Homo sapiens: one gene and its partners. The protein of the gene in region 1 interacts with the protein of each later gene in a biochemical or structural test. Each region holds a gene or a part of one and is shown in the gene's direction. Other genes may lie near its edges. The genes, in order: GOLPH3, GALNT6, FAM20B, C1GALT1, GOLIM4 and MAN1B1.

Region 1 (3,500 bases):
ATCATGCCCAGCTAATTAAAAAAAAAAATTTTTTTTTGTAGAGACGTGGTCTCACTATGTTGCCTAGTCTCGAACTCCTGGCCTCAAGCAATCTTCCCGCCTTGGCCTCCCAAAGTTCTGGGATTACAGGTGTGAGCCACCACGCCTGGTCTGCTTATTATACCTTTTCAACAAGATTTTATACTGTTGAAATTACTTTTTAGTGCTTTGGGATTCTTTTACAATATGGTCAAAATATTCACTAACTCATCTCATAAGTTATACTAATATTTGATATTTGTTAATTTTGGACTACCTGAGAGTTCTTGTATGGAGCATTTGAATTACGTTTTAGAATTGTATTTTGAAGGCTGGGTGCGGTGGCTCACACCTGTAATCCCAGTACTTTGGGAAGCCGAGGTGGATGGATCACCTGAGGTCAGGAGTTCAAGACAAGCCTGGCCAACATGGTGAACCCCTGTCTCTATTAAAAATATAAAAATTAGCCAGACATGGTGGCGAGCACCTGTAATCCCAGCTACTCGGGAGGCTGAGGCAGGAGAATCACTTGAACCTGAGAGGCGGAGGTTGCAGTGAGCCAAGATTGCGCCACTGCACTCCAGCCTGGGCGACAAGAGTGGAACTCCATCTCAAAAGACAAAACAAAACAAAAGAATTGTATTTTGAAGTTATTTTGATAGATTTTGAAATATTTGGGGGATTTTTTTGATATTTAAAGAAATACACTTTTATAATATCATCTTACATGTAAATCTTAAATACCCTGGAGGCATCAGGCATTATGCTTGTTCTGGTACATAATGTTAAGCTTTTGGCTGTACACTTTTTTATGTCTTTGCAAACTCCCCCCCCCTTCTAACAGCATAACTTTTCTACTGCCATTAATCAGATTAAATAGTATAAAACTATGCTGTAGTCTTTGTTTAGAGGATTTATCTTCATGTTGTGAGTCTCCCTTTGAAGCAGCACAAAAAGACAGTGCTTGTCCTCCTCCTGCTTTTTTTTTTTTTTTAAGATGGAGTCTTGCTTTTATCACTCGGGCTGAAGTGCAATGGCACCGTCTTGGCCCACTGCAACTCCGCCTCCTGGGTTCAAGTGATTCTCCTGCCTCAGCCTCCCAAGTAGCTAGGATTACAGGCGCCTGCCACCATGCCCAGCTAATTTTTGTATTTTTAGTAGAGATGGGGTTTCACCATGTTGGCCAGGCTGGTCTCGAACTCTTGACCTCAAGTGATCCGCCCACCTCGCCTTCCCAAAGGTCTGGGCATGAGCCACTGTGCCCGGCCATGCTGCTGCTTTTTAGTAAGTGTCCTGACAAGTGCCAAAAGTGGAAACCTGGCTTCATTTTGAAATTGATGTTTTTGGCTTCAGGTTTCTCTTATCAAAGCTGGGAAGACTGCAACCTGTTTTAATAGCATTGTACAGTATTACAATGTAATCTAGTACATTTTGAGGTTTTTGACTTAGGTATTACAAATATATTTAGAACATAGGCTATTTCTCTTCCCGTTTGGTAAACCTCTCATCTGCAAAAACACAACTAATATTAAAGTACAGTGTATTGCCAACAAGGATGTTTCTGGTCACTTTTAAGAATAACATTTTAAACAACAACAAAAAAATTTACTTATTTTTAAACTTAATGCATTGTATTTGATTTACATATTCCTTTAATGGAGAAGTTCTTAAATTGGAGTGAACAGAGCTGAGAAACTTTGTGAATTCTCTGCAGTTGTGTGTTTTCTTGGGGAAAGAGGACAGAACTTTCATTAGATACTCAAAGCATTTAGTGAATCAGGAAGGTTAAAAATTACCAAACAGGAACTGTTTGTTTTAGCTTAAGGTTTTCGTCTTTTCTTTTTCCTTCCTGAAAATTAACTACAGAAAATTCCAGGTTTCCAGGGTTGTAGCGAGTTGAATTTTAAGTGATTTGAGATACGAAGTCCACATTTCTGTGGCCTGTCTAGAGGTTCTCATCTTGCTAAATGACATTTAGAAGCAGCATAACTGCTTCTAATCTAGGATTACCACACATCTAGGATTCTAACAGTTTTCATCCATTCATCAAATGTTTACTGAGCACATGCTCTGTGAGAGGCCCTTTACTAAGTACAAATTCACTGAAGAACATGTCTGTCTTCAAGTTCATTCATTTTAGTTCTGTGTGTCAAAGCTCATATAGTAAACTACAAAACTAAATTATGTTGCTGTTCTAGAATTTTTTTTTTTTCTCTTCTGAGACAGAGTCTTGCTCTGTTACCCAGGCTGGAGTGCAGTGGTGCAATCTATGCTCACTTCAACCTCTGCCTCCTGGGTTCAAGCGATTCTCCTGCCTCAACCTTCTGAGTAGCTGGGATTACAGGCACTCACCACCACACAGGGGTACTTTTTGTATTTTTAGTAGAGACAAGGTTTCGCCATGTTGGCCAGGCTGGTCTCAAACTCATGACCTCATGTGATCCACCCACGTTGGCCTCCCAAAGTGCTGGGATTACAGACATGAGCCACCCTGCCTGGCCTGTTCTATAATTTTTTGATGTCATATATTTCAGGCTGGCATTTGGCAGTCACTCAGTACAATGACATTACTCACATTAAGAATACATAATTTACCTAACCCTGGCAGGTGTGGTGGCTCATGCCTATAATCCCAGCACTTTGGGAGGCTGAGGCAAGGGGATTACCTGAGGCAGGGAGTTAGCGACCAGCCTGGCCAACATGGTGAAACTCCATCTCTACTAAAAATACAAAAATTAGCCAGGCAGGGTGGTATGCACCTGAAATCCCAGCTACTCGGGAGGCTGAGGCAGGAGAATCACATGAACCCAGGAGGTGGAGGTTACAGTGAGCTAAGATCATGCCACTGCACTCCAGCCTGGGCAACAGAGCAAGACTATCTCAAAAAAAAAAAAAAAAAAAGAATACATAATTTACCTTATTAAGTAAGCTAATATTATTTATTAAAGTAAATTTACTTATTAAATAAATTTACTTAATACATTTACTGTATTAATTAAGTAGATTACTGGCTTTATTAAGTAAATTATGTATTCCCAGTGTGGTAATGTCATTGCCAAGGGAGTGAAACTTGGTTCTGGGCGTGGTAGTGAAAGAATCGTACTCTTGGCCGGGCGCGGTAGCTCACCCCTGTAATCCCAACACTTTGGGAGTTGAGGCGGGTGGATCACGAGGTCAGGAGATGGAGACCATCCTGGCTAACATGGTGAAAGCCTGTCTGTACTAAAAAAATACAAAGAAATTAGCTTGGCGTGCTGGCGGGCTCCTGTAGTCCCAGCTACTCGGGAGGCTGAGGCAGGAGAATGGCGTGAACCCGGGAGGCGGAGCTTGCAGTGAGCCCATATCGCGCCACTGCACTCCAGCCTGGGCAACAGAGTGAGACTCCGTCTCAAAAAAAAAAAAAGAATCTTACTCCTCTTATGTATAAAAAGGCACACTTACAGTGTACAAACAAATATGTATATTCCATCATATTAAAATTT
Region 2 (3,500 bases), on another chromosome or scaffold:
AATTTATTTATTTTTATTTTTTGAGACAGGGTCTCGCTCTATTGCCTAGGTTGTAGTGCAGTGGCATGATCATAACTAACTACAGCCTCAACCTCCTGGGCTCAAGCAATCCTCCAGCATCAGCCTCTCAAGTAGCTGAGATTACAGGCCTATGCCACCACACCCAGCTAACTGGTCTCTTTTTGCTAATTGGTCTTTTTTTTTTTTTTTTTTTTGAGACAGAGTCTTGCTCTGTCACCCAGGCTGGAGTACGGTGGTGCTATTTCTGCTTACTGCAACCTCCAGCTCCTAGGTTCAATCAACTCTCCTGCCTCTGTCTCCTGAGTAGTTGGGATTACAGGCACATGCCACCATGCCTGGCTAATTTTTGTATTTTTAGTAGAGAAGGGGTTTCACCATGTTGGCCAGGTTGGTCTTGAACTCCTGGCCTAAAGTGATCTGCCCACCATGGCCTCCCAAAGTGCTGGGATTTCAGGTGTGAGCCACTGTGCCTGGTCCTAACTGGTCTTTTAAAGAAATTTTTGAATGCTAATTTGCAACACTCTGAATTTATTTTATAATATCACAGTGGATTGTAATCAGCAGTTTGATACAAGCTGGGCTGGGTAAAGCCTCAGTTCCTTACACCAGTGAGAGAAGGTAAGTTTGTGTTCTGGCCGGTGGGGCCAGGGAAGCAAATCCCATTTGTTCAATCTAGGCAGGCTTTTCAGAGAGGATTTCTGGCATCATCTCGGGATCAAAGCCAAGGATGGTCCAAAGAGTTGCAGGCCCAAGGGTAGCTGGAGGAAAAAGACTTGGGAAGAAGTGCTGAGCCACAGCGAGAGGGAAATGAGTGGATGGGGGCTGCGGGCACACTTGCCAGGAAAGCAGGAGGCCAGGTGTGGGAGCCCAAAGGTGAGGGAGATATACAAGACACCAGGGGCGGATCTCGTGAAGCTTTGTACTTGAAACAATAGCAAAGAATAGCAGCTATTCTTTCTCCAAGGCTGGTGGAGGGGCGACCTCCACGACCTTGCTAACCATACTTCTGGGAATCATCTCCTACACAGGGAGCAGAAATCCTTAACCCCAAAGTCCTGTGGCTTGCACTAGATTCTGTGTCTCTTCTAAGGGACTCTTCCTGTTGCCCTCATGCTAAGCAAACAAACTAGAGAATGAGTGCCTCACCACCAAGGCTAATCCCAGGTGTCTCATTTCGGTTCAGGATGTGGTTAGTACCTTGAGGAACTGTAGGTTTGAGAGAGAAAGCTTCAGGCAGCCAGATGGGATTGAGAGATTAGATGCCTAGGAAGAGCTCAATTTAACCCTATATTTCTTTCTCCAGGGAAAATAAAAGAAGCAAAAACAGGCCCTGCTGTGAGGGACCACGAGGCAGTGCCAGGATGAAAGAGTTGGAGTAACCTAGGTGATTCTGAGTGAATCAGTCAGGAGGCCTTCCTGGAGGGGGTGAGTCTTGAGCACTGGCAACAGTTAGTAACTACAATCTTACCATGCCTTTGTTTCTAACTGTGCTCCCTCTTTCTTGCTGGAGTGGGAAGGTAGATGGAAAGTAGCAGGGAAGACGAAGCCTGCAGGACGGTTCAAAGCTGTCATGGCAAACACTCCCCCATTCTGCAGGCCTCTGTGTGGGCTTAGCCGGGACAGTTCCAGAACTGATGAGGTGTCTAGCTCAAGCAAATCCCCCTGTGCTAGCCCCAGCATAGCTCAACCTCTGTGACAAGAAACTCCTGCTACACTGAATCCCCATTTCCTCCCCGAAGCCTTCCTCAAACCCACAGGGAACTCTACCTCTCTCAGCTTAGCTCTTACTGTCTGTGCTATTCTGCTTTAATTTTATTCATTTTTGAATAAGTAATATAGTCAGGGTTCAAAGTACAAAAGAGTATTCAGTGAAAGGTCCTTTTCCTGCTCCTGAATCTCCCCTGGTCAGGTGCTTCCTTCACCTGGTCAGTGCTATCAGTTCTCGTTCTCCAATAAGATTTTCAAATCCCTTGGGGAAAGGAATTGAGCCTTTGTGTCCCTCTGTGTACCAGACGGGGTAAACTGTCCCACCCCATCACCCAAGGGGGTCTTCCTAGGCACCATACCCTCCCTCTTCCATCCACACTGCTACTAACTCTCCTGGGTCAGACTCCGAATGGGTCATCCAGCTGCCAAGCAGGTCCCTTTCCAAGATACCCTCCACCGCTGTCATATTGCTCTTCCTGTAATGCTGGGCTCCCAGCTTAACGCTTTATTACTCCCCATGCCTTGGGTCAAGGGCAAATGCTCCTCAGCATGATGAACAAGGCCCTTAGGACTTGGTTTCAGCCACCTCTGTAGGCCCAATTTCTGCTACTCCTGCCATACCAGACTGCTTACAGTTCTGTGACTGGCTCTTCTGTCTCCCACCTCTAGACCATTGCAGGTACTGTGCCTTCTGCCTGAAATGTGCTCACCTCGCCTCGCTGACTCCTACTCGCCAGTTAGTGTTCGGCCCATTTCTGCCCCCGTGAGATTTCTTCACAGATGTTGCCCTCCCCCATTTGCTGAGTTTCCTGCATGCCGGCTCCTTCAGCACTCAAGGGTACCTCTTTGATTCTGCTTCTCACAGGGTAATCTCTGTTTAAAATCTGATGCCCCCAATTGACTGTAGGATCCTTGAGGGCTGGCCTTGCACTTCTCTGTGTCCCCCGCCTCTTGCAGAGTACCTGGTAGAGGCAGTTATTCAGTAAATACTGGTGGAATAAACAAATCTCTCCTATCTCCTAGACAATAGTTAATACAAAATAGATGCTCAAAGAGATTTCTTTTGTTTGATTTTTGACGGTGCTGCTGAATCTGATGTTATAAAAGAAGCCACATTTGTACCCCAGTCCAGAATGAATCCACCTCCCCACTTGAGATCACGATGGCCACATACTCCCAAGGTCTCAGACACCAGGCCTCTCCACAGGCAGGAGCTTGTGCGTTTAAACAATAGCATTAAATAGTACAACCAGAGTTATTTTTAAGCAAAACATGCAGGGAGTAATGAACGTGGCTTTGGCCAAGGGCCAGGTGCTTGAGGATAACTGCTGGGAAGTGAAGCAGGGATTTATCATAATAATAGAAATAGTTGATACCATTTATTGAGGGCTTAGTGTGACAGGTGCTCTGCCAAACATTTTACCTACATTATCTGATTTAATCCTCCCCACAACCCTGTGAGTTAGGTATTAGTTGCCCCCACTTTATAGATGAGGAAATTGAGGCTTAGAGGGATTAAGTAAATTACCCAAGGGTCACACAGCTGCTAATGATCAAAACTAACACTTTGTGGGAACTTACCATGTGCAGAGACTGCTAAGCTTTGTCCATGAATTTTGTGGGGAAGGAGCATAATCCTTGTAACAACCCTAGGAGGTAGGTGCTACTACTAGAAGAGGAAGAACTGGAATTTGTGCCCAGGTCCCTTGCCATTGATGTCTAGTGCTTAACCAGTGAGCTTATGTGTCCAGAACTCTGCACAGAAAGTTCTG
Region 3 (3,500 bases), on another chromosome or scaffold:
TGATTGGCCCATGGGTGGCCATGGGTGGGCCCAGAAAAAGCACCATAAGTTCTCACTGTGGTTTGCGGACTCTTAACCAGAACCGACAGCCCAGCCCCCATGCTTCAGGCCATCCCTGGCTTGAAGGTGGGGCTTCACTGGGGACCCATCCCTTTCCGCCCAGGAGCCTGCCTCCTGCCACCATTCATGTCATCCACAGTGCCCAAGCTGTTTGTACCAAGGGATGCCTGCAGGCCTACACTGAGCCATCCTCAGTCCTCCCTTGGCCTCCCTCCCATGCTCATTGGTGCCCAAAGTCCGGAGTGGGCTGAGACAGCAGGGGCCTGGTGTATCAGCACTGCCCCAACCACATATATACAGGTCACGACATCACCTGGGCTTTGCCACAATTTTGCTCCACCCCAGAGTGGGTGCGGGGAGTGGGGAGAGGCCAGGCAGCAGGAGTGGCATTTTGGAGCCTGTGGGTGTAGCTGTGGCTGGGTGGCTGCAGCTGTACCCAGGAACACGGGGCCCCTGCTCCACCATCTTGGAAGAGGGCAGGGCTCCCACCTGTTCCCAGCTCCTTCCAGCTCCGTGGAGTGTGCAGCCCTGGCCATGCCTCTCCCACTGCAGCTGGTGTCTTCGCAGCAGCTGCTCCAGTTGGGCCACTGCTGCCATCATTAGGTCCTTCTCCAGATTAGTTAATTTTAAATTATTGAACCTTCTTGAGCTCAAGAATAGAAAGCCTAAAAGGGTGAGTCATATATTAGAGGCTTACAAAAGATTCAGGGGTGGAAGGACAGAATTTTTGATCAAATTTTGCTTTGTACTTGGGCTTGCAGGAACTGTGGAAGGTGCATCAGTGAAGAAATGGACCAATGTGTATAATCATGGAATCTCCTTGCTAACCATCACCACCAGCTCTCCTTAATACATGAGCAAGAGTGGGTCAGGGGAGAAGGAAAAGAGGTCAACATGAAGCTAAAGCAGCGAGTCGTGCTGTTAGCAATTCTCCTTGTCATTTTTATCTTCACCAAAGTTTTCCTGATTGACAACTTAGATACATCAGCTGCCAACCGGGAGGACCAGAGGGCCTTTCACCGAATGATGACTGGCTTGCGGGTGGAGCTGGCACCCAAGCTGGACCATACCTTGCAGTCTCCCTGGGAGATTGCAGCCCAGTGGGTGGTTCCCCGGGAAGTGTACCCTGAAGAGACACCAGAGCTGGGGGCAGTCATGCATGCCATGGCCACCAAGAAAATCATTAAAGCTGATGTGGGTTATAAAGGGACACAGCTGAAAGCCTTACTGATACTTGAAGGAGGCCAGAAAGTTGTTTTCAAACCTAAGCGGTAAGTTTTGATCTTGGAAGCTGCATGTGCTAGTTGGTTGATTCATTTAACTTGGGATTTATATAAGATTTATTTTGTCATCTTCTCTTGGAAGTCTCTTCAGTAAAATAAGAGGGGTAGACTAGATCTCTAAAGTCTTTTCTAGCACTTAACATGAATCTACCTTTATAGTATCATATAGAATAGTCTTCCTGCCCTAAAAATCCTCTGTGTTCTACCTACTCATTTTTCCCTCTCTGCCCCAGAACACCTGGTAACCCACTGGTCTTTTTACTATCTCCGTAGTTTTGCCTTTTCCTGAATGTAATATAGTTGCAATCACAGAATGTAAGCCCTTTCAGATTGGCTTCTTTCACTTAGTAAAGTGCATTTAAGGTTTATACATATCTTTTTGTGGCATGATAGTTCATTTGTTTTTATCACTGAATAATATTCCATTGTCTAGATGTACCACAGCTTAATTATCCATTCACTTACTGAAGGACATCTTGGTTGCTTCCAAGTTTGGGGCAATTGTGAATAAAGCTGCTATAAACATCCATGTGCAGGTTTTTGTGTGGACATAAATTTTCAACTCATTTGGATAGATACCAGAAGCATAATTGCTGGACCACATGGTAAGAGTACGTTTCATTTTGTAAAAAACTGCTAAACTATCTTCCAAAGTAGCTGTACCATTTTGTGTTTCTACCAGCAATGCATGAGAATTCCTGTTGCTCCACATCCTCACCAGGGTTTGGCATCAGTGTTTCAGATCATAGCTGTTCTAATAGATCTCTTATTTCTTTCACCTGTTTTAAGTAAAGAATTGGGCCATTTTAGTTACCTTAGTTAACTAAATATGTATGTTGTTCATGATCCCTTTGGACTTCCTAGGGATCTACAGAGATAATTTGTGTGACAATTCTGTGATACAGTTAATTATTTTTATTTATTTATTTATTTCTCTACACAAGACAGCTTGGAGGGTATAGTTAATTTTCTAAAAATGTTTTCTGAGTGTATGAATCTGAATTAGGTTAACATCATGATGGTGATTTGTATTCTTTTGCCGGGAGTTAGTTACCAATGAATATTCTCAAAGTTTGTAATGTCTGAAATCTTTTGGGTACTAAACATTTTTTTCATTCCTCAGTAGAGCTTTTGAAAAAATTATAACATGACTTTAGATTTCTTTCTGGAGTGGGAGAAGAAATGTAGGGAAAAGATGGACAAAATTCAACTCCCTTTCTTACCCAACTATTAGTAAATGAAAGGCAGTCAGAGCATGAATGTATAGGGAGCCCAGAAATGGAAGGGATCACTGTTGGTCTGGAACTGGGAAATATATGTCAGTGATGTGGAAATTAGGAAAGTTAAAACATTTGGTAGACTTTCAGAGAATAAAAATTTGACTGGGGCTGGGCGTGATGGCTCATGCCTGTAATCCCAGCACTTGGGGAGGCCGAGGTGGGTGGATCACTTGAGCCTGGGTGATGTAGTGAGACTCTGTCTCTATAAAAAAATAAAAAATTAGCTGGGCGTGGTGGTGTGCACCTATAGTCTCAGCTACTTGGAAGGCTGAGGTGGGAGGATGGGAAGATTGCTTGAGTGCGAGAGTTTGAGGCCGCAGCAAGCCATGCTCGTGCCACTGCCCTCCAGCCTGGGTGACAGAGTGAGACCTGTCTCAAAAAAAAAAACCAAAAAACAAAAAAAAACCGTGGTTATGTGGGCCTGGGATCTAATTTCTGTAATGCACACTATTTGCCAGGGATTACACTAAGTACTTTTGTATCTCTTAATCCTTTAAACCCTTATACGAAGGTTTAACCTTTTTGGACAATTTCAGTTCTTATTTCCTGAATAAGAAACTGAGGTTCAGAGAGTGTAACTAACTTGACAAGGTCACCTCACATCAATCAGTGGTACAGAAGTTTGAACCCATATTTGTTAGAGTTGTAAACAGCTTGTATTCTGCCACACACATGGAATTCTCTAAGTTTGTTTGCTTCCCATAAGTGATGACGTGGAGCACTCATCATCAAAAATCGCATTTAGCTTTGAAGTTTGGTCTTTGACTTCTTGGCCTGAGAGATAAGCAGCATAAACAGAGTAATGGAAAAAGGCAAACTAAAGACAAAAATAAAATTTGTATATAAAGAGATGGCCGGGCACGGTGGCTCACGCCTG
Region 4 (3,500 bases), on another chromosome or scaffold:
GGTTTACTTTATTAAGCAGTAAACATAAGCAGTATTTTAGTCTAAATTTTGTCATATTCCTGTCTGTATCTGTTAATTAAAATGGGCTATATATTCCAGATATTAAAAATAATTCTTGGTTTGCCTCAAGAGAAGGGAATTGCTAAAACTCAGATTTATTTAGGGAATAAGATATTAATTTTGAATTCGTTTTTAAGTAGAAATAGTTCAGAACCCATGATTTGGGGAAGGGCATAACTATTCAGATTTGATTTGTTTCTGAAAATGTTTTTCTAGGTTCAGTTTTGTTATATGTGTGTCTTTGGTTTTTGTTACTTGTTTTGGTCATAGCTTTTGCTTAAGTCTTGTTTTCCTAGAGAAACTTGAGGTGTATGTAAGTTTCGATTTATATTTTTATAATTAGTTAATAGAACTAATCTTTTTTTTCCTCAAGAGGCACAAAGAACAAGGAAGTTAAAAACCAAGGATGCGTTCTAAAGACTTCATTTTCTCCTAGCCTCCTACCTCTAACCAGATTTTCTCAGTTGAGTTATTTATGTGTCCCTTAAGTGTTGGTTCTCTCCAAGTTTCTGTCCTTTAGCTGTTTGTCTGTGTGACATCATTAACCCGCATAATTTTAATTTCCTTCTATTTCTTACTGTCTTTAGCCCAGTTCCAGACATTGTGAGGTGACATTAACACAATGCAAAATACGGTTTGACAGAAAATAATATAAGTAGCTTGAAAACAATTGGAATTCTGGGATGCAGAGGGTCCACTATTCAGTTTTTTCTCTTCTCTTCTCAGTAGTAAATTATTTCTTCACCACCTCTCAAGCAGAGGTTGAATGGTGAGATTTCAAAGCCTGGTTCCATTTTATCAACTAGCAAACATAAACATACTATTACAAAGTATGTCGTGTTTTGTGATTGTTTATGTAACAGTAATTCAGCTCTGAGCAAGTGCTCTGTGTTCCTACAGAACAGTTTGGTCACTGTGTATTTGCTCTGTAGCATAGCCACATGTCTTTAGGTGATCAATTGGAGGCAGAGTTCCCTACTAATAGTAAGCCGTACGAGGCCTCACTGCAGGCATGTGTATTAGATACATACTTGTCCAGCTCAGTGGCCTACAAAATGTGGGGTATGCTAAAAGTTTGTCTACTCCCTTCAGACTCAGCATGTGTAAATTGAGTCTCCTTTTCCTTCCTACTCCTAGAAGTTGCTCTTCCTCCTCTATTCTTTCTTTTATATGGCTCATTACCATCTGTCTGTGCCAGAAATTAAGAAATCATGGTAGGTGCTTGCCTTCACATGCTAGCCAATTCGATTTGTCAGTACATTCTAACAGTGCTGCTACTTTACCATTTTTCATCTCTTTTCCTCTCAGTCCTCAGTGCATTTCCGATTCAGGCCTTCAGCTATACCCATGTACCTGCACTCAACCAAACTTCACCATTCCTTTTGGTGAACTTATAACCTATTTTCTGTATTATGTCTTTATTTTTTAATCTTCCTCTTTGTTCTACCTAGGTCCCTATCTACTGCTCTGTAGGATTTATTAGCCACTATTTTCCTTCAGCACATTGAATCCTTTGTTCATACCTCTATAATAACATCTCTTAGTATTTAGCAATTATTGGTTTGTGTGTCAGGCTCAGGCTCCCTGAATGGACTGAATTCCTCTGCAGCAGGAAATGTGTCTTACTCATTTTTTTCATCTCCTATGCCAGCCCATGCCCAGTACAAAGCAATTAGTGAATGAAAAATTATTTATCAAGTTCAGCGGTGGACAAACCTGTCTTACCTGAATGAAACAGATTGGGGATTCCTGCATTCACTGTTCTATCCATTCAAGGTTTGGTATATTTGTATAGCCAAGAGATTGGGCTCCTCAAGGATATGAGATGTCTATGCTTTCTGACTGAAAGTAGGGTGATTTTGTCTGCTGTTGTCCTTTTGGATTGTGAATCTTGATACTCAGAGGGACATGAGAATTTTTATTTTTTATTTTTTTTGAGATGGAGTCTCGCTCTGTCACCCAGGCTGGACTGCAGTGGTGGGATCTCGGCTCACTGCAACCTCCGCCTCCCGGGTTCAAGCAATTCTCCTGCCTTAGCCTCCCGAGTAGCTGGGATTACAGGCGCCCACCACTACGCTTGGCTAATTTTTTGTATCTTTTTTAGTAGAGACAGGGTTTCACCATGTTGGCCAGGCTGGTCTCGAACTCCTGACCTCGTGATCTACCCGCCTCAGCCTCCCAAAGTGCTGGGATTACAGGCCTGAGCCACTGTGCCCAGCTGGGACATGAGAATATTTTTATGTTCCACCCAGCTTTTCCCATTATTCCCTCTCAGTTGGTTAACTAGTATATTATATGCCTCCATTGTTAATTTCTCATAGGACTAAGCTTCTGTAACTTGCTGTTTGACCTTAATTTTAAGCATATGCTTCGTCAGGATACTGCCCAGAACATTGCTACTGAAAGTCAGTTCATAGACTCATTCTGGTCCTATAACTAAAGAATGTCTGCTTATTTGGGAGTAAGCAGAAACTTTTATTGTAATTGGAGTAATTTTGTCTGAAGCTAAAAATAAAAATTTAGGACTTGTTTTATATTTTAGTTTTATTTTTCTTATAATTCATTTTTATCCTATTTACACAGTGTAGACCTCTTTTAGAAATAAAAATTGGCCTTTCACCACAGATAGCTTGGGAAGTACTCATCTAGAATCTCATCATTGAGCTCTTCCTCTGTACCGGTGCTACTCAAAATGCGGTCCTGGCCTGACACTTTGTCAGCTGTTTGTCTGCACAAGATAATGAGGTTACACTAGGATGTAAATCAGTTTTACGCTCACTGCTTACTTAAATGGACAGTTTTAAGTTTCAGTTTTAAGCTCACTGCTTAGTTAAGTGGACATTTTGATTGGTTGGTTCTGATAGTAGGCCTTTTTCAAAGTAATGTGTTGCTTTCTGTTCTGGTATAAGCTCCTTATTTCTTTGCAAACCTGTAGTTTAAAGAGCACTGCTCTAGACCATCTTGGAATTCCCATGTCTACCATTGTTCTCTTCTGTTTTTGATTGGTGGATTTACATTTTGGAATGAGGTATGTGACTATCAGAAAGTAATCTCAACTCCTGTGCTTTGACCTTTTACCACCTCAGGGTACTTGTAGAAATTCTTAATAGTGGATTATTGTGAACTTCAAAAATGAACTGCCACTTCAGCAGCATGTCTTTCCTGCTCTTCAGAAACTCGTTCAGAGCAGTGAGAAATTTCTGTCAGTAATCTATTAAAAACTGGCTGCTTTCTTTTATGAAGTGCCAAGCAGAGACTATTTAAGGCAGCATTTAGCATGCCTATGAAGCACCAGGAGAACTTATTAAAATGCTGATTCTGAGTCAGTAGGTCTGGGCCTAAGATTATGCATTTCTAACAGGCTCCCAGGTGATGCTGCTGCTTTTAATCAGTAAACTACAGTTTGAGACGAATTTAGATTATAATGTCAACTCTTACTA
Region 5 (3,500 bases), on another chromosome or scaffold:
ACCAGGAAGCTTTGCACCAGCAGAGGCTGCAGGGGCACTTACTACGGCAGCAGGAACAGCAGCAGCAGCAGGTGGCAAGAGAGATGGCCCTGCAGAGGCAGGCTGAGCTTGAGGAGGGCCGGCCGCAGCACCAGGAGCAGCTCCGGTAGCCTTCCCCTTCCTTAATGAACGAAGACAGCCCCTGCTCCAGTTTTCATACGCAAATTAAAAACAGTTTTGTGCATTTGTGATTCATGAAGTTAAGGGGCTCATATTGCTCAAATAGCCAAGGCAGGACAGCTACTTGAAAATTAAATACCAAATATTTAATTTTAAAAATAATATTTTTTTTCTGCTCAAAAGTGGTAGGTTAGGTCTCCAAATAGCCTTGCAGGCTTTGTGCCAACTTTATTTTATTTTATCTTTAAAAGATATTTTATCTTTTTAAGATACCTTTTGAAAGTGTATCTGGAATTTTTATTATACCTAATTGCATACATAAGAGGTTTTTAAAAATTTTTCATGGCTTCTTAAAAATGTTGAGAAACATTACTTATTACTGTCTTTAAAGATAAATGACCTATGTCAAACTGTGCCTCTGAATTTTGTCCCACTGGATTTATCATGTTTGTGTCTCTTGTAGGCAGCAAGCTCATTATGATGCTATGGATAATGATATCGTTCAGGGAGCAGAGGACCAGGGAATCCAAGGAGAGGAAGGAGGTGGTGAGACTTCCTAGATGATGAATGTTTTAATAAATTACTTGATAACATTGTATATTATCAGTGAGCCAATATTATATAACATCAATGAGCTGTATGCATACCTAAGTGCAAAGGAGGTTTGTGAATCATGTCTTTTTCTTAATCCTCTTAAACAGTACATGCTGGTAGTGAAAAATGCTCAAGATAATCTGTTTCCTCTCTATCATTTTCCCTGTAGTTTAAGCTTTTTATATACTAAATATTTATAATATTTCTGACAAATTATTATAGGATTATTATGCTTTGGGAAACATCTGCATTTTCTCCTTACCTTGGAAGTCCTCACATCATTGCCTTAAAATGTTTTCAAATTAAGTCAATAGTAGCTTTCATTTATGATAAGCACTTAATATGTAATTTATCAAATATTGCTTACTGTTATAATAGAACCAGAATGTAACTTACTGTCTCTCTGGCACCACTAACACTTAGATGTGTATCTTTTTCTAAAAAGTCAGAAAGAAAGTGATTACATACAACCTCCCTCAATAGCCCGTTGTGATATCTTACAGCTCTTACAGTCAAGAAATTGTTTTCCTTATGTCCGCCATGTGGCACTTTAAGCTTTTTTGTTCTCATATCAGTAAGACTAGAGAATGGCTTGTCCTCTTCTCTATGTAGTAAACCCCTTTGTGCACTTGAAGGCTGATGGTAAGTTACCCCGTATCATCATTTTCTCTAGGCTTAGTACACTCCATATACTTAAACTTTCCTCTTCTATCTTACTTGTTTTAAAAAGTGATTTGTTCTTCTCTTTTTGTGCTCATACAATTCTCTTTATCTAAATATTTTTTCAAAAAGCAGCAAGTAAATGTCTGAGTATGAATGTGTGCTGTTTCTGGGCTGTGGCGGTCATCATCATTACTGTGATGACATCAGAAAACATGTGATGGGCTATATTTGTTTCTGAGCTCCACAGATGGGGCAGTTCTTCCTTGCATTTCCTGAAACTATCAATTTCTTCTTTTGGAGCCCAGCTACTTCCTCTGATATTATCAAACATTAGTTGATTTCTTCAGCAGTGTCCAATCAACTGGGCTTTCTTTTATTGAGAGAGTTTTGATTGTTGTTGTTTTCTTGCATATGGGGGAAAAATTACAGCTCCTGTGAAAAATATTTATTTTAGAAGAAAAGTGTCTGACCCATATCATCTCTCTAGACACACAGTCTGTGAAGAGAACATAACCTTATTCAGAAAAGCCAGGACATAGGCCTTATGTTGAGTTAACAGAGGTGGAGGTATTGTAGTCTGTAGAAAAGTCCACTGGTGGCTTTTCTTTGAGTTGAAAGGGAAATCCTGTTTGATTCATTTTGGGCTGATTTTAGTTCCTTTGATTTGCTAGCCTATGAAAGAGACAACCAGCACCAAGATGAAGCAGAAGGAGATCCAGGTAATAGACATGAGCCTCGTGAACAAGGACCCCGAGAAGCCGACCCAGAATCTGAGGCAGATGTAAGTATCCTCTCTTCTGCCCCTGACACATGTAAACTCATAAGGTGGGAAAGAGAGTTGAAAACTTGCCTGATGCCAGCCTTCAGCCCCAGATATTTCTGTTATATCCTCAGCCCAGAAGGAAAATGGCTTGCATAATTATATATGGGCAGTGTTTTTAACTGTAAACCATGGTGTACGTGTATGTGATGAGCTGGTTTAAAAGTTGCTCTGGGGGAAAAAAAAAAACAAAACCAGGATTTTTTTTTTCTGATGACTTTTAGATTAATAAAACTAAAACCTAGAAAAGCAAAACTGAGAGACACTGAAATATGTAGTAACTCTGAAAGCTAGGAGGAATAAAAGGCAAGTGTGGAAGTTGGAGATGGGACCAGAGAAAGGAAACTAACCCTTCCTGAGCATGTTGAGCAGTCTGCTAGAGTGTTAGGTATTTGTGTGACTCTCTGTAATCTCTTAGCAGTCTAGTGACCATTTTAATAAATATATGGATAAGGATATGTGGTCTGAGACATGAAGAGTTGTTCAGGTATGCAATGGTACAGAAAATTTATAATATAAGTAGGTAGACATCTAATAACCAGCATTGTTGTTTGTGTTTACCAAAAAAGACTGAGACCTCTAGTTCAGCTGGGTGGGCTAGATCCTTGGCCCTGCCTACAAGTGAAGCAAGCAAATGTTTAGTGAGTCTGTTCCTGCGTGTATGCGTAGATGATTTTTACAGCTTATTTTAGCTGCCCTGTCATCTCTTGCTAATAGATCAACTACCATGTTTATAACAGTCGGTCTGTGCTATGTCACATGAGCCCTGATTAAAAGGAGGACCCATGTCCTTGCTAATCATCAAGAAAGTCATCCTGCTAGCTACTTAAAGCCCTTTTGCTGGAAACAGCTTTTCCACTTAACTTGCACTGAGATGTGGCAGAACACCTTTCCCTGGCATTCCTTGCATCAAGATTTCTGAAAATATGCTCCAGGGAACCTAGTCCTGAAATATTTTCAGGAAAAGGCTAATACTTGAGAGCAGAAACATATGAGAGAGCAAGAGACTATCCAGGAGAGAGCAAGAAAGCAAGTGTACAAAGGCCTGCAAATGTGCATGGGGTGGGAGGAAGGGCATTTCAGTCACTTGTTTGGGAACTGCTGTAGGCTTTGATTTCTTGACTATATGATCCTTTACTTTCCTGTCATCTGTTTGTTTGTTTTGGGGAACATGCTGGGAAACATTGGCCTTTGTACCATTCTTCCTTTTAATTAGAAATGGTTAATCCCACTTGTTCCTCTCTTTCTGTTTTATTTGAACGTA
Region 6 (3,500 bases), on another chromosome or scaffold:
GGAACGATAACGCCCCAGACATGGGTTTGGTTTTTTGTTTTTGTTTTTTTGTTTTTGAGATGGAGTCTTTCACTGTCTCCTGGGCTGGAGTGCAATGGCGCAATCTCGGCTCATTGCAACCTTGGCCTCCTGGTTTCAAACGTGGGTTTTTTGGAGACAGAGTCTAGTGGTGTGGCCCAGGCTGGAGTGCAGTGGCACGATCTCAGTTCACTGCAGCCTTCGCCTCCCGGGTTCAAGCTATTCTCATGCCTCACCCTCCCCAGTAGTTGGGACCACAGGCATGCGCCACCATACTCAGCTAATTTTTGTGTTTTTAGTAGAGATGGGGTTTTCCCATGTTGTCCAGGCTGGTCTCTAACTCCTGGGCTCAAGCAATCCACTTGCCTCAGCCTCCCAAAGTGCTGGGATTACAGGCATGAGCCACCACGCCCAGCCAAATGTATTTTGAAGATGGATAGATAATAGGAAAACGTTGGAGCCATCCATTTGTCTCTGCATCCTTTACTGTTTTATGTCATAGAATTTGAGGAAGCCAGGAAGTGGGTGTCGAAGAAGTTACACTTTGAAAAGGACGTGGACGTCAACCTGTTTGAGAGCACGATCCGCATCCTGGGGGGGCTCCTGAGTGCCTACCACCTGTCTGGGGACAGCCTCTTCCTGAGGAAAGCTGTAAGTGTCTTGGGGTGTCCTGCAGGGAGATGGTGGACTCGCATTCAAGCAGTTACCCCTTTAGTGGACTTGTGGGGACGTGACTGTCTTCCTGTTTCCTCTTCAAATGCACTGGAGTCTGTTTCTGAGCTCATATTCGTGAGCTGATGAAGCCACTTTGATCACCACTGGCCTTGTAGAGACATTCACTCAGTGCAGAGTGATGCCCGTTTCCTTGCTGCTGTGTTGACCCCAGAGAGCCTTCAGTGTCTCCACTGAACTGCATGAAAGGGTGTAGACGAGGCCTCTGGGTGACCTGAACGTTGGTTCTCTACTCTGCTCATATACCAGGAGGATTTTGGAAATCGGCTAATGCCTGCCTTCAGAACACCATCCAAGATTCCTTACTCGGATGTGAACATCGGTACTGGAGTTGCCCACCCGCCACGGTGGACCTCCGACAGCACTGTGGCCGAGGTGACCAGCATTCAGCTGGAGTTCCGGGAGCTCTCCCGTCTCACAGGGGATAAGAAGTTTCAGGTAAGGGGGCAGGCTTTCTGGCTGGATGCGCCTCCCCTGGAGCTACCTTTTGCTCATCACAGCAGGTACTGTGTGTGTGTGTGTATGTGCATGTGTGTTTTCAGGTTTTTTACTGTGATAAAACACACAAAACGCACCACCTTAACCATTTCCAGGCGTGGTCGGTGGTGTTACATTCACGCTGTTGCAGGCGTGCAGGTCGGTGGTGTTACACACATTCACACTGTTGCAGGCGTGCAGGTCGGTGGTGTTACACACATTTGGGCTGTTGCAGGCGTACAGGTCAGTGGTGTTACACACATGCTGTTGCAGGAGTACAGGTCGGTGGTGTTACACACATTCATGCTGTTGCAGGCGTGCAGGTTGGTGCTGTTACACACATGCTGTTGCAGGAGTACAGGTCGGTGGTGTTACATGCTGTTGCAGGCGTGCAGGTCGGTGGTGTTACATTCACGCTGTTGCAGGCGTGCAGGTCGGTGCTGTTACACACATTCCTGCTGTTGCAGGAGTACAGGTCGGTGGTGTTACACGTGCTGTTGCAGGTGTGCAGGTCGGTGGTGGTACACACATTCATGCTGTTGCAGGAGTATAGGTCGGTGGTGTTACACACATTCACTGTTGCAGGCGTGCAGGTCGGTGGTGTTACACATTCACGCTGTTGCAGGCGTGCAGGTCGGTGGTGTTACATTCACGCTGTTGCAGACGTGCAGGTCAGTGCTGTTACACACGCTGTTGCAGGCGTGCAGGTTGGTGGTGTTACATTCACACTGTTGCAGGCGTGCAGGTCGGTGGTGTTACACACATTCATTCTGTTGCAGGCGTGCAGGTCAGTGTTACACACATTCACGCTGTTGCAGGCGTGCAGGTCGGTGGTGTTACACACATTCACGCTGTTGCAGATGTGCAGGTCGGTGCTGTTACATTCACGCTGTTGCAAGCGTGCAGGTCGGTGGTGTTACATTCACGCTGTTGCTGGCGTGCAGGTCGGTGGTGTTACACACATTCACACTGTTGCAGACATGCAGGTCGGTGCTGTTACACACATTCATGCTGTTGCAGGCGTGCAGGTCGGTGGTGTTACATTCACACTTGCAGGCGTGCAGGTCGGTGGTGTTACACACATTCATGCTGTTGCAGGCGTGCAGGTCGGTGGTGTTACACACATTCACACTGTTGCAGGCGTGCAGGTCGGTGGTGTTACATTCATGCTGTTGCAGGCGTGCAGGTCAGTGGTGTTACACACATTCACGCTGTTGCAGGCATGCAGGTCGGTGGTGTTACACACATTCACGCTTTTGCAGGCGTGCAGGTCGGTGGTCTTACATTCATACTGTTGCAGGCGTGCAGGTCGGTGGTGTTACATTCACACTGTTGCAGGCGTGCAGGTTGGTGTTACACACATTCACACTTGCAGGCGTGCAGGTCGGTGGTGTTACACACATGCTGTTGCAGGCGTGCAGGTCGGTGGTGTTACATTCACACTGTTGCAGGCGTGCAGGTCGGTGGTACACACATTCACACTGTTGCAGGCGTGCAGGTCGGTGGTGTTACACACATTCATGGTGTTGCAGGCGTGCAGGTCGGTGTTACACACATGCTGTTGCAGGCGTGCAGGTCGGTGGTACATTCATGCTGTTGCAGGCGTGCAGGTCGGTGGTGTTACACATTTTCACGCTGTTGCAGACGTGCAGGTCAGTGGTGTTACATTCATGCTGTTGCAGGCGTGCAGGTCGGTGGTGTTACATTCACGCTGGTGCAGGCATGCAGGTCGGTGGTGTTACACACAACGCTGTTGCAGGCGTGCAGGTCAGTGGTACACACATTCACGCTATTGCAGGCGTGCAGGCCGGTGGTGTTACATTCACGCTGTTGCAGGCGTGCAGGTTGGTGTTACACACATTCACACTTGCAGGCGTGCGGGTCGGTGGTGTTACACACATTCATGCTGTTGCAGGCGTGCAGGTCGGTGTTACACACATTCACACTTGCAGGCGTGCAGGTCGGTGGTGTTACACACATTCACACTGTTGCAGGCGTGCAGGTCCGTGGTGTTACACACATGCTGTTGCAGGCGTGCAGGTCGGTGGTGTTACATTCACACTGTTGCAGGTGTGCAGGTTGGTGTTACACACATTCACACTGTTGCAGGCTTGCAGGTCGGTGGTGTTACACACATTCACACTTGCAGGCGTGCAGGTCAGTGGTGTTACACACATTCATGCTGTTGCAGGCATGCAGGTCGGTAGTGTTACACATTCATGCTGTTGCAGGCGTGCAGGTCGGTGGTGTTGCACATTCATGCTGTTGCAGGC

The links.
Region 2: the proteins of GOLPH3 (region 1) and GALNT6 form a complex in vitro, tested with the Homo sapiens proteins (one study listed by BioGRID).
Region 3: the proteins of GOLPH3 (region 1) and FAM20B form a complex in vitro, tested with the Homo sapiens proteins (one study listed by BioGRID).
Region 4: the proteins of GOLPH3 (region 1) and C1GALT1 form a complex in vitro, tested with the Homo sapiens proteins (one study listed by BioGRID).
Region 5: the proteins of GOLPH3 (region 1) and GOLIM4 form a complex in vitro, tested with the Homo sapiens proteins (one study listed by BioGRID).
Region 6: the proteins of GOLPH3 (region 1) and MAN1B1 form a complex in vitro, tested with the Homo sapiens proteins (one study listed by BioGRID).

Annotation. Positions count from the first base shown.
Region 1 is NC_000005.10:32,164,320-32,167,819, reverse strand, and holds part of GOLPH3 (Golgi phosphoprotein 3), read left to right. Parts: intron 1-3,500. UniProt on the Homo sapiens protein: Phosphatidylinositol-4-phosphate-binding protein that links Golgi membranes to the cytoskeleton and may participate in the tensile force required for vesicle budding from the Golgi.
Region 2 is NC_000012.12:51,381,407-51,384,906, reverse strand, and holds part of GALNT6 (polypeptide N-acetylgalactosaminyltransferase 6), read left to right. Parts: intron 1-1,324; exon of another isoform or gene 1,325-1,446; intron 1,447-2,397; exon of another isoform or gene 2,398-2,594; intron 2,595-3,500. UniProt on the Homo sapiens protein: Catalyzes the initial reaction in O-linked oligosaccharide biosynthesis, the transfer of an N-acetyl-D-galactosamine residue to a serine or threonine residue on the protein receptor. May participate in synthesis of oncofetal fibronectin.
Region 3 is NC_000001.11:179,042,894-179,046,393, forward strand, and holds part of FAM20B (glycosaminoglycan xylosylkinase), read left to right. Parts: intron 1-821; 5' UTR 822-954; coding exon 955-1,331; intron 1,332-1,879; coding exon of another isoform or gene 1,880-1,948; intron 1,949-3,500. UniProt on the Homo sapiens protein: Responsible for the 2-O-phosphorylation of xylose in the glycosaminoglycan-protein linkage region of proteoglycans thereby regulating the amount of mature GAG chains.
Region 4 is NC_000007.14:7,234,544-7,238,043, forward strand, and holds part of C1GALT1 (glycoprotein-N-acetylgalactosamine 3-beta-galactosyltransferase 1), read left to right. Parts: intron 1-18; exon of another isoform or gene 19-1,836; intron 1,837-1,842; exon of another isoform or gene 1,843-3,088; intron 3,089-3,500. UniProt on the Homo sapiens protein: Glycosyltransferase that generates the core 1 O-glycan Gal-beta1-3GalNAc-alpha1-Ser/Thr (T antigen), which is a precursor for many extended O-glycans in glycoproteins.
Region 5 is NC_000003.12:168,026,425-168,029,924, reverse strand, and holds part of GOLIM4 (Golgi integral membrane protein 4), read left to right. Parts: coding exon 1-145; intron 146-622; coding exon 623-702; coding exon of another isoform or gene 703-705; intron 706-2,087; coding exon 2,088-2,197; intron 2,198-3,500. UniProt on the Homo sapiens protein: Plays a role in endosome to Golgi protein trafficking; mediates protein transport along the late endosome-bypass pathway from the early endosome to the Golgi.
Region 6 is NC_000009.12:137,100,485-137,103,984, forward strand, and holds part of MAN1B1 (endoplasmic reticulum mannosyl-oligosaccharide 1,2-alpha-mannosidase), read left to right. Parts: intron 1-520; coding exon 521-669; intron 670-999; coding exon 1,000-1,188; intron 1,189-1,194; exon of another isoform or gene 1,195-1,272; coding exon of another isoform or gene 1,273-3,500. Other genes in the region: uncharacterized protein LOC124902313, read left to right, coding at 1,273-2,255, 2,292-3,500. UniProt on the Homo sapiens protein: Involved in glycoprotein quality control targeting of misfolded glycoproteins for degradation.